2 separate regions of the Homo sapiens genome follow, and region 2 is linked to region 1. Evidence: fine-mapped expression QTL. A gene starts in region 1. The other region holds a variant in brackets. All regions are shown on one strand. Distances are between the middles of the regions.

What was found.
Region 2: its variant is fine-mapped to the expression of PTPN20 in whole blood (TOPMed, PIP 0.90).

Annotation. Positions count from the first base shown.
Region 1 is chr10:46,906,142-46,915,687 of GRCh38, forward strand. PTPN20 (protein tyrosine phosphatase non-receptor type 20) reads left to right here and starts at 5,287. Exons shown (of 11, transcript NM_001042357.5): 1 at 5,287-5,360.
Region 2 is chr10:46,814,324-46,823,869 of GRCh38, forward strand. It overlaps the pseudogene AGAP13P. Among named protein-coding and RNA genes, the nearest start is that of FAM245B, 79 kb to the left of the region's middle. The variant T/C (reference allele first, on the strand shown) is at 5,410.

The DNA of each region.
Region 1 (9,546 bases):
CTGAGGAGGCAAGAGTTGAGATTGCTGCAGACCCATACAGGTTTGCCACCGATAACCTAGATAACTTCCACCACTAACACACCCATGAGGGTTTATAAAAAATTGAGGCCAGGAGTAGAAAATTCCTCTGAAAAGAGTTGTTGGAATGCTATGACATTTCCCCTTCCATACCTCTTTCCCCTCCTTGTGGAGGGGAGAGGAATGAGGTACCTCTCCTTTCCCTCCAGCCACATGAGAAAGACTGCTCAAATCATATACAGGGTTTGACATGTGTCTTCTGAAAGGGCTTGGTGTCTGGAACATCCCTGAGCAATCTCATGGTGAGAGGTGATGACGGCAACAACATGTCTGGCGGGAGAGCAAAGAGAAAGAGGATGGCGCTAGGAGTGAACCGCCAATCCCCGTGTCAGGGCAAGGGCGCGGATGCCCTTTTTATGTAGGCAAGTAAGCTGCAGGCAGGTCATAGCCTGTAAAACAAGCAGGGGTGATGTTGACCCCAGCAGAGAGAGAGCCAGAGCCTCAGCTCACACAGAGCATGCATTAGGGGGAATCACAAAAAGGCATCCACCTGTAGCTTATGAATTACACAAAGGTGGCCCTTCCTTTCCTGTGCAGCCCATTATTGGGGCACAAAACCATGCCTACAACTCAGCCTCCACTTACTCATTTGTCTGGTACCTTTATTCATGGCACAAATTACATAAACAGATTGGTAGCCCTGGATGGGCCGAGGAATGGTCTTGTAAGTAGCTGGGCAGAGGCAACATCACTGGGCATGGGTTTGTACTCAGAGATCTTCTGCAGGGGAATTCCTGAGAAAACACAAGATTGTCTCACAGAAGAAATGGCCAGCTCAAAATATCTGCTGAGCCCAGGGGGCCCATTGCTGAAGGACTCCAGCTGTAGAGGTGTCAGACACCCACTGAGTCTGGAGGGCCTGGGTGTGAAGCTGGGTGAGAAAGGAGAAATTGATGGTACCCATTTCTCAGGCTGAAGGTGAAGAGAGCCTAACAATTAGATAAGTCAGAGGGAATCTTAAACTGAAATGGGAATATTCTGGGTGTTCAAAGTTATAAACCAGCCCAAGATTTCATCTGCACGGGCCCAGGGGAAAAAAGCATCTGGGCATTGAGTTCAAATGGCATTGGAAAGAAATTTGCACTCTGTTAGGTCCAGCTAATGAGATGCAGTTCAATGAAGACATCTGTATTCTTGCTGTAAAGCACAGGGCTTGGCGCAGACCAAGGAATGACTCATAAGGATTAAAAGGCATGAAACCAGGTTCTTTCTTAGAATTTGGCAGTCTTTGCACTTCACTTTCTGCCACATCATTATTTTACAGTTAGTACGTAGAGCTGGAAGTGGAGGGCAGGACATTTATGTTCAAGGGTTTGTGGCAGGCTCTCCTGCCAGCTGAGCAGCTCTCTCCTGTCGAAGTCTATGGATTCTCTCTCCTTGTGGTGTGTGCACGCAGAGCCATGGGCTGGCTGAAGCTGCAAATGGATGAGCAGCCAACAAATTGATCAATCTATTAATATTTATTGGGCATCTGCCGTGTGTCAGGCTCAGGGACCAGGCAGCCGGGGATTCACAACAAGATAAATGTATGTCCTTGTGCTCTTTAAATAGTTTTCTACCTCCACTGGGATTTTTACTGGCATTGAAATCTCCACAGTTTATTTTTATAGAGTCTTTTATGTGAAGTGTCTCAAAGCAGGGCAGAGAGAAACACACAGAGAGGCCCCCACGGCTTCTTCCAAGCTCATGGTCCTCATCAACTCACACTTAACAGGGCTGGGTGTGAAGCATACCATTCCCAAATGAACCAGGCTGCAAAGCACAGGCCTGAAGCAGGCGGTCCTGTGAAGGGTAATGTCAATGAAGTGATTATTTTTTTCTGTCAGTATTGTTCTTAGTTATCTTCTGTTCCTGGGCTCCAAGCCTGAATTAGAAAACTCTGAACTCGAGCATAGGCCTTGGGATCTCTCCTGAGGTCCTGAGTTCCAGCTATCCACTGGGGTCCTCCTGACTGTATCTGGGGACCCATGGCTTGGAGGAGGGTATGTTTGGCAGTAAGTTCTTATACTTGTAAGGAGTAGATGAGCCCTACCTCAGCAGAGAGCAGACATTGGCACGGCCCTCAAGGTCCATCTCAGAGGGCGTCTGGGTATCCGGATCAAGGCCAAGGACTGCAAAGACAAAAATTCCAAACCCAGCATTACCTCCCTGTGCTGGCCAATTCTGCTCCTCCAGCTGAGCCTTCCCAGTGTGATGATTTGAATGTTTGTCCCCTCCCACACTCATGTATTAATATTCAAAGAAATTTGGTTGCTGCTGTGGCAGTGTTAGGAGGTGGGACCTTCGGGAGGTGAAAGGACCATGAGGACTCTGTCCTTCTGGGTGAGATTAATGCTATTAGAAGAGGGTGAGTTTGCCTTCCTTTTTCCTATTTGCTCTCTGCCTTCTGCCACATGAGGACACAATGTTCCTCTCCTCTGGAGGATGCAGCAAGAAGACTCACACCAGATGCTGGCACCTGATCTTGGACTTCCCATTCTCCAGAACTGTGAGAAAAAAATGTTTTGTTCTTTACAAATTATCCAGGCTCAGGAATTCTGTTATAGCAGCACAAAACAGACTAAGACACCCAGGGATTAGCATTGAGCCTCGGACCATGCAGGAAATAAGGAGGCGGTGTCTGGGGGCTGTGGTGCAGCAGGCAGGGGACAACCAAGCGACTTCCCAGCCCTGTTGGAAAGTGGATCTGGAGGGATGGACTAAAAGAGGCAGAACTGAGGCCTGGGCTGGAGGACCTGAGAGTGAAACTGGGCCTGCACTGGGGAGTGAGGAGGACCTGAAGCTGCAATGGGAAGCCCTGTGTGGCTGAATCCTAGAACCATGAGGAGAGGCAACATTAGCAACTAGATCTCTGGCCTCTGCTTTTGGAATCACTTTTGGATTCACTTTTGGATGAGTGGTGCATGAACTCATCCAGACTGATGTGTGAAGGGCATCCAGGCTTACCCCTGAAGTATGGAGACTGCAGTGGGTCTGTTGCTCACAGAGGAACTCCCAGAAACTCTGGGAGAGTCACAGACCTAGAGAAGCGTATGGCTCAAACCTCTTGAGCAAGAAAAGCAGTGTTCACTGCCAGGCGTGGTGATGAATGCTTCTGTTTTTTGTCTCATTAAACACTTGCAACTGTGTCTCCTTTTTTAAAAAAAGGAAAACTGAGACACAAGTTGGGAAGTAACCTGCCAAAGGTCACCAACTATTCAGTAGCAAAGCAGGGACTTAAGGCCAGGCTTGCAAAGCTCCTAGTGCTACTGGTAATTGGTAAGACTCAAGGGTTTAAAGAGGCCTCCAAAGAAGGGTAGTAAACTGTGATGGGCCCTAAACTTTATAGTTCTTCGAATTTTTCACAGGTAAAAGGACAGAAAGCCAAGAAGAGCCTTCTGGGTCACTGGCTTCTGGGAATATTGTGTGGTCAAGCAGGAAGTCTGGGGGAGATGGAATGACACCTCAGGGTCCACTCTTACCAACTGTTCATTTAGCCTCCATGCAAGGATTTCCTGGTGATGTGAATGGGGGTTATTCCCTCTGTGTGTCTTGGAGCAGCCATGCTGCTCATGTTTGTGAAATGATGACCAGTGCAGAATCTTGATGTTAGGCACTATGAAGAAACATTAGACATGGGGTCCATCTTTAAAGGGGAATCTTACCCTGGTGATATAGTTTGGATATTTGTCCCATCTAAATCTAATGTTGGGCTGGGTGCGTTGGCTCATGCCTGTAATCCCAGCACTTTGGGAGGCTGAGGCGGGCGGATCACCTGAGGTCAGGTGTTCAAGACCAGCCTGGCCAACACAGTGAAACCTCGTCTCTACTAAAAATACAAAAATTAGCCAGGCATGGTGGCATGCTCCTGTAGTCCCAGCTACTGGGGAGGCTGAGGCAGGAGAATCACTTGAACTGGGGAGGTGGAGATTACAGTGAGCTGAGATCACGCCACTGCACTCCAGCCTGGGCGACAGAGCGAGACTCCATCTCAAAATAAATAAATAAATAAATAAAATCTAGTGTTGAAATTTGATCCCCAATGTTGGAGGTGGGGCCTGGTGGGAAGTGTCTGGGTCATGTGGGTAGATCCTTTATGAATGACTTGGTGCTAGTCTCATGGAACTGAGTGAGTTCTTAGTCTTTGTTTTCATGAGAACTGGTCATGGAAAAGAGCCTGGCACCTCCCACCTCTCTCTCTTCCTCTGTCTTGCACACATTGGCTCTCCTTTGTCTTCTGCCATGAGTGGAAGCTTCCTGAGGCCCTCATCAAAAGCGGGTGGTGGTGCCATGTTTCTTTTACAGCCTGTGAAACTGTGAAACTAACAAACCTCTTTTCTTTATAAATTACCCAGCCTCAGGTATTGCTTTATAGCAACACAAACAAACTAAGACATATGGCAATGGCGTGGGTTGCTTGCAGGGTACCTTGGCTGCTACAGAAAGAAAAAGTCTCTGTAGAGACTCACTGTCAGTGACTCACGGAGCAGAAGGCTGGCCTCAGAGCCTGGACAGAGGGTAGCTGTCACTGCTTAACTGCAGTTCAGCTCAAGCATATGGCTCTCTGTGGGACCAGCACTGAAGGCTGGGGGATAAGTGAGGCAGGTCTTGTCACACCTTCAGGGTATCTGGATTCACCAAAGTGGCTCAGGTCAGGACCAATGAATAGAGGTTTGTTCGTCAAGATAAAAAGATTCTGGCTTCCTGTTTTCAGGCAATGCCAACGATTGAATTCCCTCTACATTGACCACCCTTGCTGAAGTTGTCTTAATTGACCTAGCAGCCAACTGACCTCATATTCTGGCACAGGCTCTGACTCCTTTTGCCTATCTGCCCTGCTCTGATACTACAAAGAGACCCCCCCACCCCAGCCCTCTGGGGCCTCATTAGGGGCTTAGAGGGCAGGCGTGGGTCAGGCGAGCATTCCTGGAGAACACAGTCCTCAGTGGTTCAGGATATGAGCATAGCTCAGAGAGCTGTTGACATTATCAGCCTGGCCTGGGAGAGGGGGACCCGCACAGGGTGGTGCACAGGGCCCGCAGGGAATTTACAGCGGCGTCCGCGGCGATGGGCTCTCAGTGCCTTGGAAGACCGGTAGAGGCAGGTTCTGTCTCTCCCGGCCTGGCAAGCAGAGGGCCGCGGCGCAGGGCAGAGTGCCGCGGCGCAGGGCAAAGCTCCAGTGCGCAGGCTCGCGGGCGCAGGTGGGATTGGATAGCGACGAAGGCCGGCAGGCTAGGCGTGGACCCAACTGGCGAGGCTGCTGGGGTTGCAGCGGGACAGTTGGGGCGGCCCCGCAGGCCCAGGTGAGGAAAGGTGGCTGGGGGCCAGGTGGGCAGGGGGCGTGCGGGAGGCCGCTGCGCCGGGCTGTGGGAGGGCGGGCGTGAAGAAGGAAGATGCCGTTGACGTGCAGGGGTCACAAGGCGTGGGTTGTGGCCCTGGCCCGGGAGACTGCCCGGGTGGGCCTGAGCTGTGAAGTAGTGTCGCTGCAGCCAGAGGGCAGGACGTGATTCTGGCCGTGTGATGCCAGCTGCACTGTGACGCGTGTTGGGGCGCCTATGCGAGACGGGACCGGGACAGGAACCCTGTGGCTCTGTGGTAGGGGAATGCCACCAACTCCCTGAGGAGCAGCCGTGTGGTATGATTGGTAAGAAGCCATCATCAGGCGCTGAGACAGCCCAGAACTTCCCAATGACTCAAGGGCGGGTGGAGGTCGAGGGACCTAGAAAGAAAGAACATGAATTCATCAATCCATTCAGCAGCTATTTTGAACGCCTCCTGTGTGCCAGATGCTGTTCTAGAAGCTCAGAATATCTATGAACGCGATAGGCAATGCCCCCATATGCCAAGGCCCTCATATGCTAGCCTTGACTCAAGGAAAACTGTAGGATGGGGTAGGTTTCATTTTTGGAAGTTGTGGAATCAGTACTTATGTTTTGAATGTGTTAGGTTTGAGATGCCCAGTAGGTTTTTCCCAATAGAAGACATAAGCATAGCTGGGAAGAATTTTGCAGAGGACTCTGACCACCTACCACCTACAGGTGCCATGAATATTTAGCACATTTGATTTTTCACATTACCTATTCACCTTCTCTCCATTTATCAGTCACCTGGTAGTTTTTTTTAGTATGGTGAAATATACACACATAAATTATCTAGTAGATATTTGGGTTGAGATATCAAATGTGCTTTTTAGAAATTTAAATCTGAAGTTCTGGAGGATGTCGGGCTAGAGTTAACCTTTGGAATCGGCATCATATACTGTACATAGTATTTAAAATATATGGGACTGGTGAAGACATCTAGTTTAATAGTGTACACAAAGAAGAGGAGGCGAAGCCAAAAAAGGGAGGGAGGTAGTGGTCAACCATGTTGAATGTTACCGTATAAGATGACTTTGGTAATTAGGAGGATTTTAATCATTTTGACAAGAACAACTTTAATGGGGAAGAGGGGCCTTAAGGTTGGGTAGAGTTTTTTTCAAGATAGAAGAAAGCAGAATGTTTATATGGCAATGTGATTAAACTCGTAGAAAGGAAAAACTGCTGCAGATGAAAGAGGGGAACATTGTAAAGGGTAGTTGTTGAATACCTGAGAAAGGAGAAGACCCTAAGCAGGTGAGTAGTTGGTTTTGAAATGAGCAGGGACACTTACTCTGTTGTAACTAGAGGGGAAGCTGAGATAACAGGTGCAGATACAGTGGGTGGTGGGAAAAGAGTCTATTGGTATAGGCATCCATCAGCTTAGAGGGAGGGCAGCGGGGGAGAGGAAAGGTGTGGGAACTTGGAGGAGAGATATGTGACAGAGTCCTAGAGAGGGTGAAAGTGAGCGTACTAGAGAAATAGAGTTGGATTCCCAGGCAGTGCTCAGGGCCCATTTGAGACGTGTAGTCTTACATTTAAAGTGATATAAACCAGTGTGGTTGTTTCATGTTCAACTTTGGAAGGGTGTTGTGAGGATTAAAGAAGGTAATGCATGAAAAACATTTAATAGAGTGTCAGGCGTTTAATGAATGTTAACGCTTTTTATTTGAGCCCTCGTTTTGTTTTTCTTTTCTGTTTATACATATGTGACTGAGGATGGCTGGCAATTACCACTTGACAGGCTGTTCTGGGGCATGTTCTCCCATCACAGAGAACTGCAGTTTGCAGCTACTCAGAAGTCTGGTTCCTGTTGTGTTTACATGTACACAGCTTGATAATTGAAGATGTTTGCTTTTTAGAGCCATTGTCCTGGACTGTTTGGGCTGGGGTTTGTCACAGTGACAGTCCTTAAGTTTTTGTGAAAATCTTTTATGACTGCATTTCATATTGGATCTGATGTACTGGTAATCTACAGAATCTACAAATCTAAGATTGGCAGGAAAATTTTCAGTTTAATAGATTTTCATTTCTCCCTGACCACTTGAGCTGTTTTAAAATACAAATAATAATAATGGCTGACAGAAAGCTCTTAAAAGTGCCAAGTACTTTTCTAAGCACATCACATGCCTAATCTTGTTTAATCATCACCTCAGCTCTACAAGGCAGGTACAATTATTATCCTGATTTTTCAGATGCAAAAATAGGCTCCAAGAGGTTAAGTAATTTGCCCAAGGTACCCATACCCTGACCTCCAGTTTCTACTGCAGACAATAACTTTTTCTTTTTTTTTAAACTGCTTGGCCATCACTCATCTGCATTGCAGTGGAGTACTTAAGATGTTGGACTCCAAAGCCAGATTGCCTGGTTTCAGAAAACTGCCACTTAGTAGCTATGGGACTTTGGGTAAATCATCTAACTTCTGTGTGCCTTTGTTTCTTTTTTGACAAAATGGAAATAATAATAGTACCTGCCTGATAGGGCTATTATCATCGCAGTTGAGAATCACATGAGTTAATATATTTAATATGCCTAATATAGTGCCTGGTTGTTTAAATGCTACTATTATCACCTGCCTGGTAGTACCACCATGGTGCTGTATATACTGATTGGTTTGATCTATCAAAATAAGATTCCAAGTGTCCTGTTATTGTCTAAGCAGAGTTTTAAAATTGCAGCCCACTATATTATTCCCACCTCAGGGATCACTCCTGTTTCCTCTGAGTTTATCTCTCTGAGGGAAACAAATAGATAACAGTTTGCTTCCAGGAGCAGACAACAACTCAGATTTCATTCAGACTCATTTGACCAATAGAGTTCATTTCATTAATCCTGGCATTACATACCACTTAGCAAAGGGGAATAAGGCTTGGGGAGTAATGTGATTCCATGTTGCTTTTCCCAGATCAGCAGCCCATTTAGAGGAATTTGGTTAGAAATACCAACGGACTACATAGCCAGTATTTGGCACAGCATAGGGTAGGTGATGTGGGTCAGTGGGCTGGACATAAAAGTGTTCTGAAAAGATCTGTAAAGTCATTGGAGTTACTGTGATGTGTTGTGTCAGTTACTGATTAAAAGTAACTGGCAGGCTTGGCATTTGAGACCACTGAAAGTTTTAAATGATCTTTCTGATATACAACACGTAGAGTAAATGTATGATACAAAGTAGTGGTTCTCAGTGAGTTTGCATCAGAATCACCAGTGGGGAGTTTTATGAAGATTTGCACAATGACAGGCTCCACTTCCACAGATTCTGAATCAGTAAGTCTCGGTAGGGTTCTGGAATCAATCAACTTTTTTAAGAGCTCCCCAAGTGACTGTGATGTGCAGTTAGCATGGCATATCGTTAGTACAAATCAGTGCTTTTAAGCCCTGACTGTGTTTTACAATTACCTTTCTATCAGCTTTTTTAAAAAATACTGATATTCTGGAGCCACCCCAGGGATTCTGATTTAATTTGGCCTGGTGAGTTCTGGACATACGTGTGTTTCTTTAAAAAAATTTCTGAGATGATTCTAATGTACAGCTAGGTTTGAGATTCACTGGCATAGTCAGCTAGATTTCCCGCCATAGTTTATTTACTCTTGAAAATTTAAACATAGCTTCAGGCAGCATCTTACCACCAGGAAAGTGGAAAAATGAGCATTTCTGAATTTCCTCAATGTAAATGTTCAATAAAATAATCAGCTAACAATGAAAAATGTGAATTGCTGGTAGAATTAGCATTTCTTACCCTAAGCTATGAAGATTTGATCAAGTTTCCCTTGGGGATGAGAATTTACATTTCCTGAGAGCCTTATATAGAATCTCAATATTTCAGCAACTCTGGGAGGTACATATATTTCCCATGTTGTAGATGAGAATTTTGAGGCTAAGGGAGGTTAAGTAGCTTGCACACTCAGTTGTGTACATTTCCAAGGTCTAGGTTCCATTTTTTCAGTGATTCTCAACTTTGAGTGCACACTGGGATCACCTGGGAACTTTAAAATTACCAGTGCTTGGCTGGGTGTGGTGGCTTACGCCTGTAATCCCAGCACTTTGGGAGGCTGAGGCGGGCGGATCACGAAGTCAAGAGATCAAGACCATCCTGGCCAGCATGGTGAAGCCCCATTTCTACTAAAAATACAAA
Region 2 (9,546 bases), 92 kb before region 1:
AAATGAAATTAGAGAAACAATTTCACTGGGCAACAAGAGCAAAACTTCGTCTCAAAATAATAATAATAATAATAATAATAATAATCTACAATGTCATTTCCCATCCAAGCTTGACTTCTACCTTTACTTTCTGATATGGTTTTGCCATGTCCCCACCCAAATCTCATCATGAATTATAATCCCCATAATCCTGATGTGTCGAGGGAGGGGCCTAGGGGGAGGTGATTGGATCATGGGGGCAGTTATCCTCATGCTGTTCTTGTGATATTCAGTAAGTCCTCATGAGATCTTATAGGGTTTTGTTTTGTTTTTTGGGATGGAGTCTTGCTCTGTTGTCCAGGCAGGAGTGCCATGGCATGATCTTGGCTCACTGCAGTCTCTGCCTCTTGAGTTCCATTGATTCTCCTGCCTCAGCCTCCTGAGTAGCTGGGATTACAGGCATGCACCACCACACCCAGCTAATTTTTGTATTTTTAGTAGAGACAGGATTTCACTACATTAGCTAGGCTGGTCTCAAACTCCTGACCTCAGTTGATCCACCTGCCTTGGCCTCCCAAAGTACTAGGGTTACAAGTGTGAGCCACCGTGCCCAGCTGAGATCTGATGGTTTTATACATGTTTGACAGTTGCTCCTTCACATGTTCCCACTCTCTGTGCGGCCACCATGTAAGTCGGACCTGCCCTTCTGCCATGATTGTAAGTTTCCTGAAGGACTTCCCCCTCTGCCATGATTGTTAAGTTTCCTGAGGCCTCCCCAGCCATGTGAAACTGAGTCAATTAAACCTCTTTCCTTTAAAAATTACCCAACCTCAGGTGTTTCTTTATATCAGTGTGAAAACAGACTGCTATACTTTCTGATACTCATGCTTAAGCAATTGGGGAATTCAGACTACCTGGGATCAAACTATGGCCCCACCCTTAGCAGTCATGTGACCTTGGGGAGGTTACTTACCTTCTCCATCTCAACAACTTCTGTAAAATCTGTAACATGAGATTGTTTCTGAGGGTTAAATGAGCATAGCACAGTGGGGACACTGTCAGGCACACACTACTTGCCAGATGTCGAGTATTCATCTTTATTGAAATAGGACTGTGGTAAGCCACTTTATGGCTCTCGATTTTGTATGAGAAAATCATGCTTAGTGCCTTGTTAGTAAAAGAAAGAAAACCTGAAAGTCCCTGCCATGGAAGGAAGAAATAGCGGGGAGAAAAGGGAGTTGGTAAGTTTCAGCATTTCAGAGCTTGGAGGTGCCAGTTAGGTTTCTATTTTATGGAGAAGGAGGTGGAGGCAGGATGGGTCCTAAGGTGTCATTCAAAACACACAGCCATAACTCTTTATTGAGAGTAGAGCTAGGGCCCCAGGGATTGCTGTGGTCAAGTTGCGGACAAAAATGACCACTCGTTGGAAGACAGGAGAGGAGTGTTTAGTTACAAAAGCAGTCAACAATTCAGGTGTATCTATATTCAGACAGCAAATAAAAGTTGTTCAACTTGGTTGCTAATGGGACCCACTCTACTGAGGCTTTGTATAGAACTCATAGAGGAAGCTGGCTTCAAGGAATGAACTACCCTGTGCTTTTCTTAGGACTAAAATCTCAGGAAGCTGGTGATGAATGAAAACCTTAGTCCCACTGGCACTGCACGAGGGGCCAGGAGAGCAGCAGCATCATAAGCCACAGGGTGGGGCAGCCAAGGCAGGGGCATTCTGAGCTGTTGGGGAGGGGTGGCAGGCAGGGTGGGGCACTGTGAGGTGTCGGGGAGGGCATTGTGAAGTGGGGGGTGGGGCATTGTGTGCCACATGCCTGGGCTCCCACCTGGGGCCAGTGGGCTTCAGTCTGTAGGTGACTACAGAAGGAGAAGGAGCTCCGTCTGTTCTCTCTTCAGGCAGTTGTTGTGTCTCTCAGCGCTTGTTGGGTTCACAACCTATTAAATAAGCCGGCTGGTCTTCACCCTCCCAGACAAGTCAACTCAGGGGAGGCAGCAGGGTGCGGGCCTTGGCCCGCAACCCTAGCCGGGGCCGGGGCCGGGGCCGGGGCCAGGGCTGGTGCCCGGGGCCGCGCTGTGAGGTGGGCAGGCGAGGAGCGGGAAGACCATCTCTGCAAGTGCAGCATAGCCTCGGCCTAGGACAGCGGGAGTGCGTGGCCAAAGCTGTGAGCAGAGGCACAGGTGGTGGCAGACAGTAGAGGCGCCCCATGGGGAACATACTGACCTGTCGTGTGCACCCTAGCGTCAGCCTCGAGTTTGACCAGCAGCAGGGGTCGGTGTGTCCCTCTGAATCTGAGATCTATGAGGCAGGAGCTGAGGACAGGATGGCAGGAGCGCCCATGGCTGCTGCTGTACAGCCTGCTGAGGTGACTGTTGAAGTTGGTGAGGACCTCCACATGCACCAGGTTCGTGACCGGGAGATGCCTGAAGGTGAGGAGGTGATAGGTGCCATCTACCCTCGGTTTGCCTTTGGCTGCTGCTGTCCCCAAGGTTCCCTTTGAGGCATCCCCCACTTCGAGCTCCTTTCTGCTTGTAGCCAGCTTTCCCGGGGGCTGGCCAGGAACAAAACTGGCTCTGCCTTGAATTCCCACCCCTTAGTCTTTCCCCACCGAGTCCAGTCAGTTTCTTTTCGCCTCCCCTCCCAATCGCCCAGTTCTTGCTCTCTCATCTCATTCTCCCAGGCTGGCATGGGGCCATTTATTTATGGCTCTTGTCGAATAAGCAGCAGTTGAATAAATGAGTTGATACATTTTTATAAATGATTACATCTTTTTTCTTTTCTCCCTCTATACATATAGCTTTGGAGTTTAACCTTTCTGCCAATCCAGAGGCAAGCACAATATTCCAGAGGAACTCTCAAACAGATGGTGAGACAACAGTGTCTGTAGCTCTGTTTATTATCCTGTGGGACTTTGTTTAGGCTTCTTTGAGCTATTCTCTTCCTTTTCTCAATAAAAACTCAAATATCCCAACTTTTCAGTACCCATCTTATTTTTTCTTTGTACCTATCCAGATGGTACCTAAGTGAAGGAACCAGGTAAGTGCCTAATTGTTTCCTTTGTTAAAGTAGCCAAATCTCAGGACAGTTCCTATTCAAATATTTGGGGATTTCTTATTTAAAATCAGAATGGAGGTTGCCACGGGAGAGGCTATATGGTATTCTTAATGGGCTGCTTTAAGTCACCTTGATAGAAGCTGCTTAGTTTCTTCTAACTGTAATTTGAACACAGAAGGAAAAAGAAAAAAGGAGAATGCTTAAAATAATTGTGAAAGGTGTGAAATGTCACAGCCGGGGCTGCAGAAAAATGGTTGTGTGTGTGTGTTTGGGGTTTCTCAAAGGAGTTTACCTATGAGGCTCTGATTACTTTAAAATTCTTACTTTAACAGAAAATGTGTCTCCAGATTTATTCTGGTGACTTAACAGACTTTATTTACCTCCTTGTTCTAAAAGAGAGGTGGGGATTGGTTCATGGTCAAAACTTTCAAAAGACATGAAACGTCAACGTAGACTTTTAATGTGTAATATAAAGATTGCAGGTTAAAATGTCAGACCTTCCCTGTTAGAGTGTTTGTTGCCATGGCTCCCCCTTTGTCCCTTCCCCTCCTGACAATAGCATCTTGTTCAAAGATAAGAAAGTTACAGTTTTGGCTGGGCTTGGTGGCTCACGCCTGTAATCCCAGCACTTTGGGAGGCCGTGGCAGGCGGATCACCTGAGGTCAGGAGTTCGAGACCAGCCTGGCCAACATAGTGAAACACTGTCTCTACTAAAAAAGAAAATACAAAAATTAGCTGGGCGTAGTGGCGCATGACTGTAGTTCCAGCTACTCACAAGGCCGAGGCAGGAGAATTGCTTGGACCTAGGAGGTGGAGGTTGCAGTGAGCAGAGATCACGCCAATGCACTCCAGCCTGGGTGACAGAGCGAGACTCCGTCTCACAAAAAAAAAAAGGAAAGAAAGTTGGAGTTTTTTAGTCTCTACACTGCTGGCAGAGGCAGGGGATGGGAGCCGGTAGAAAAGAGAAAACAATTAGTTGGTTTGCCTCTAAAATTTTGCAAAGAGATGAATCTAAGTAAAAGTAATTCTGGGTAATAATATGGTTCTTGAATAAAAACTGAAATTTTCAAAATAGAAAACATTGCATCATAAACATATTAAATCCAGTTGGCTTATTGGTTTCATTTAAATGCCAGAGATTTCATCACTGTAGAGGAAATGTCTTATAGCTCTTCTATTTAAACTTTGGTCGGGCTCTTAATTTTTAAAGAGGTAGGATAATTAAGACTCATTATGAGTGTGACTTTGTAACTTGGAAGTACTATCTTCACATTTCAAGATATTTAAGGATTGCTTTAGAATAAACAAATGCATTATGTGAATTAATTGATTGTACCTTTATACACAAAGCATGTAAGTACTTGTGTAAACTTATACTCTGCTTGGTGATGTTCGGAAAGCCTGATGGATGTTACACACCAGTTAGTAGATGGGTAGTGTTGGATGAGAGCCCAAAAATGGCTCTTTATTGTCATTCTTTAGGATTACAACACAGTTTATGTATGTCTCACTTGGCCCTTTCCAATACAAATAAGGCCTGTGTATGTTCTCCCTATGTATTGCTAATGAAGAAATGAAAACTTAGAGATATCACATGACTATGGAAGACAGCTACTCAAGAGAACTAAGGTTCTGTGTCCTCAGAATGAAATGGAAGTGACAGATATGATGAATTTACTTTTTAAAAATTTTAAAAACTCTAGAATACATCTTATATTTTGCCTATAAAATAGACTGTCTTTTAAAACTTACTGCTATCTTGATTTATTTTATGCAAAGTTGATTTTACACAACTCAAAGCCAAAATTTACCTCTTTTTTTTTTTTTTTTTTTAAATAAAGGAGGGTGTCATTGTGTTACTCATGCTGGCCTCAACTTCCTGACCTGGGTTCAAGTGATTTTCCCATCTCAGCCTCCTGAGTAGCTGGGACTACAAGCATGTGCCATCTTGCCTGGCTCTATCTTATGTCTATACATTCATTTCAATGGATAAGAATCAAAGTAGAGATAGTGAAATAGCCTAAATGCAGCAGTCGAATAAATGAGTTGATAAATTTTTATCAATGATTACATCTTTTTTTCTTTTCTTCCTCTATGCATATAGCTTTGGAGTTTAACCCTTCTGCCAATCCAGAGGCAAGCACAATATTCCAGAGGAACTCTCAAACAGATGGTGAGACGACATTGTTTTTTCCGCCAAGAGAAAGAATAAAATCTCTTGTTTGATCAGGTTATAGAAAGTATTTAGAAAAACTCATATTGGTTTAAATTTTTCACCTTTTCACATGTTCACTTGTCTCATTTGAATATGTGATATACTTTCCTTTAGTTGTTATGATGTTAGTGAAAATGTGTAACCTTTTTGTTTA[T/C]ACATTTTGCCATCTTTTTATCAACACAATTAATTTGTGATGTGATGGAGGAGTCATGGATTTCTCTTTATAATTCTTGGATTTATCTTTATTTATAATTAATGGATTTATCTTTATTTATAATCCCTTTTCCCTTGCTCCAAAAAGTACACTTTAAAGATGAATGATAGAACTTAGGCTTCAGCTTGGTTTTCATTTAAACAACTTAAAAAACATAGTTGTTTATCATCAGGGATTGAATCTGTGATTTGGGCCTCCTCTTACACAGTCCTCTGACCACATTCATTTACCACATCCAAGTTCATGCTACTCAAAAGTTTTAGGTTATTAACTTTTTCATTCGATGTAATGTAAATTTAAACGTGCCCTACTCCTGCTTATTTCCCTTAATGTTATGTTAAATCCTTATTTATTTGCCAACAAGCCATACACAGCCAAGTTTTCCAGTTGACTTAAACAGCAAGAATACAAGTGAGGGTTCTATAATAGTGTGCGAAGTAATGCAGCACAGTAAAACACGGGAGTTTGTAACCTTTGTTTTTATAGTTTGAGTAGACTTTGCCCATCTTGAGTCAGTTATTTCTGGTTAGAATTTGTCTTCATTTTTTACATTACTATAAAGAGATACCTAAGGCTGGGTGATTTATAACAAAAAGAGGTTTAATTGGCTCAAAGATTTTCAGGCTGTACCAACATGGCTTTAACATCTGCTTCTGGTGAGGGCCTCAGCAAACTTACAATCATGATAAAAGGCAAAGGGGAAGCAGGTGGTTCCACACGGTGAAAGAGAGAGGGGAAGGGGGAAGGTACCACACTCTTTTTTTTTTTTTTTTTGAAATGGAGTCTCACTCTGTTGCCCAGGCTGGAGTGCAATGGCACGATCTTGGCTCACTACAACCTCCATCTCCCAGGTTCAAGCAATTCTCCTGCCTCAGCCTCCCGAGTAGTTGGGACTATAGGTGGGCACCATAACACCTGGCTAATTTCTGTATTTTTGGCAGAGACAGGGTTTCACCATGTTGGCCAGGCTGGTCTGAAACTCCTGACCTCAAGTGATCTACCCGCTTCAGCCTCCCAAAGTGCTGGGATTACAGGCTTCAGCCACCGCACCTGGCCAGTACCACAGTCTTTTAAATTACCGTAATGAGAATGTGCTTATTACCATGGGGATGGGACCAAGCCATTCATAAGGAATCACTGCCATTACCCAAACGCCTCCCACTAGGCCCTATCTCCAACATTAAGGGTCACATGTTAACATGAGACTTGGAGGGGCAACATATCCAAAACATATCAGAATTGTATTTCCCAGTTCCTTCCAGAGCCATGGGCTTCTCACACCTAGAGAGCATGGAAGCAGTAAAAGAAAAGCTATTCCATGTCCCTCACTCTTCAGTGGTAGTAACTTTTGCCTACAAGGCCCTCCCAGCATCAAAGGCAGAGGCAGTGTAGGAAACAAAGCATGGCCCAAGTCCCTCTTGGGGCTTTTATTATTCTGGCCTCTTTTTAGGGAAAAAAAAATGATTTTTTTGTGCTGCAGACACCATGTCCAATTAGGTTTGTATACTTATTTTAACATCAAAATTTAGGCCAGGCTCTGTGGCTTACACCTGTAATCCCAACTCTTTGGGAGGTTGAGGTGGGTGGATCACGAGGTTAGGAGATCAAGACCATCCTGGCTAACACAGTGTAACTCTGTCTCTACTAAAAATACAAAAAACAATTAGCTAGGCATGGTGGCACGTGCCTGTGGTCCCAGCTAGTCCAGAGGCTAAGGCTGAAGAATTTCTTGAACCTGGGAGGCAGAGGTTGCAGTGCGCTGAGATCCCGCCACTGCACTCGAGCCTAGGTGACAGAGTGAGACTCCATCTCAAAAAAGAAAACAAATTTAAGATAGGTTACTTTCCAGTTGTGTAAAGACCATTTTTTAATTTTGTTTTGTTTTTAGTGACATATTAGTAGATAACCACTAAGTGTGGTTCAAGATGCTTACAGGGATTCTGTTGCATCTAGAGATAGGTGTCTGGTCAGGAAGTAGTTTTTAGAACTGTTAGCTCTTAGAGTCTGATAATTAAAGTAAGCTATGTGTAAATGCAGAATGAGAGAATACTAATGGATCATGGCTCATATATGCAACAGTTAAACTTTTTATTAGCTAAATTTTTCATCTGGCCTAATTTTTTTGCCCTTTTCTTTTGTACATGAGGATTCTTTCATTTGTATGTAATAGAAACAAAAAGTAAACTAAATGAAAATCTAAGTTTTTAGATTTGACTTATGAAATTAATCATGCCAGATAATTTAAATTATATGTTATTGAAAATTTTTTTTTAATGGAATTTTGTCTCATTTTTCATAGGAGTAATCAGTAAGATGTTAACAACTACTTTTATTTTATGGTATTTGTATCAGAAGTGACCAGTTTTTTTTTTTTTTTATTCTTAGTTGTAGAAATAAGAAGAAGCAACTGTACAAACCATGTAAGTAAACACTCAAATAGTTAAGAAATTGATAGTTTGACATAAAAGGATGTCTCTCTTGATTTCTTTAAATTACAATGTGGACCTGGTGGTGGTAGCATGGACCTCTTTTTGTGGATTTTCTAAATCTCTTCTATTTTCCTGAGTATTAAATTTATCCAGAAAAGTGCTTAGTTTAGCGTGTCCACCTTTTAAAGATTTCTGACATTTAAGTTAAATTTCAATAGTCCGGTTCAAAAGACCTGCCTTAAGGCTGGGCATGGTGGTTAACGTCTGTAATCACAACACTTTAGGAGGCCGAGGCAGGCTGATCATCTGAGGTCAGGAGTTTGAGACAACCCTGACCAACATGGTGAAATTCTGTATCTACTAAAAATACAAAAGTAGCTGGGCGTGGTGGTGCATGCCTGTAATCTCAGCTACTCAGGAGGCTGAGGCAGGAGAATCACTTGAACCCAGGAGGCGGAGGTTGCAGTGAGCCAAGATCGCACCATTGCACTCCAGCCTGGGCGACAGAGCGAAACTCTGTCTCAAAAAAAAAAAAAAAAAAAATTGCCTTAAATATTTAATCTTATTTTTAATGAAAGAACAAAAATAGAATAGCTAAGTTAATTGCCAGCACTGTCTATTGACTTTCTGTCACAGCAGGTAAAAGCATACCTTCCCCGCTACACCATGATCTTATGTTTCTCCCTGTGTTTCTTCCAATTGTAGCACACTTTTTAATTAAATCAGTAATATTTACATGATTATGACTCTGCAAATATTATTCACTGCTAAGTCATATGGTGTTTTCACTGTGCCTCTGCATTCCATGTCCTTCATCCTGTCTCTGAAACAGTTCTGAAATCTGAGCACTTCTGCAATTCTCCTGGATCTTCTTTTTTCCTAGCCTACATTAGTTTATCTATCCAAATATCGTTAAGTAGCCTCTGGGTGCTCTGTTTGCTTTCACATCCATTATTTTTTAGCATGAAGCTAATTTTCTGACTATATTCATTTGCCTGTTTTCTAACAGCTGTTTTCCCCCAAGTATTGTAGCATTTATCACATGCCTTTCAAAGATATTTTCCATCTGCGAAAACACATCTGTTCCTTTTTATGTTTGTGTGGGGGGCAACTTTCTTTGGCCTTTTGTCATCCTAGTTCAATATAGCGTGGGTTTCCCTAGATATGCTCAATGTCTGCTTTTCTGGGCTAACTCTTTAAAGTCTTTTGGTATCTCACGTAACTGCTGTCTTGTGTGGGATCACCTGAGTCCTAGATTCTGTGTTTCCTTCTGTCCTGTTATCGTCTCTAGTTGTACTTGAACACATTTTCCTGTGTGGAGATGTTAAAATCCCTCCTCTTTGATAGAGAGTACACCTCTAGGTTGAATCTAAATGTTGTGGTTCTGAAGACATTTTGCAGTTGTGCTCTTATTACAGTGTTGTTCTTGAATCTATTGCCAGTGTGTGATACGTTATTTACAACCAGGTTTTAGTTATCTGTGGAAGCTTTTTAGAATCTCTCTCTCTAAGGTTCTGAAATTTTATAACAGCTTGTTGGGGATCTTTTCATTTTATTGAGGCTACTAAACCTGCAGACTATCTCTTCTTGAGAATTTTTTTTTATTTTCTCTGTTACTTTTTTACTGATAGTCTTGTTATTCAGATGC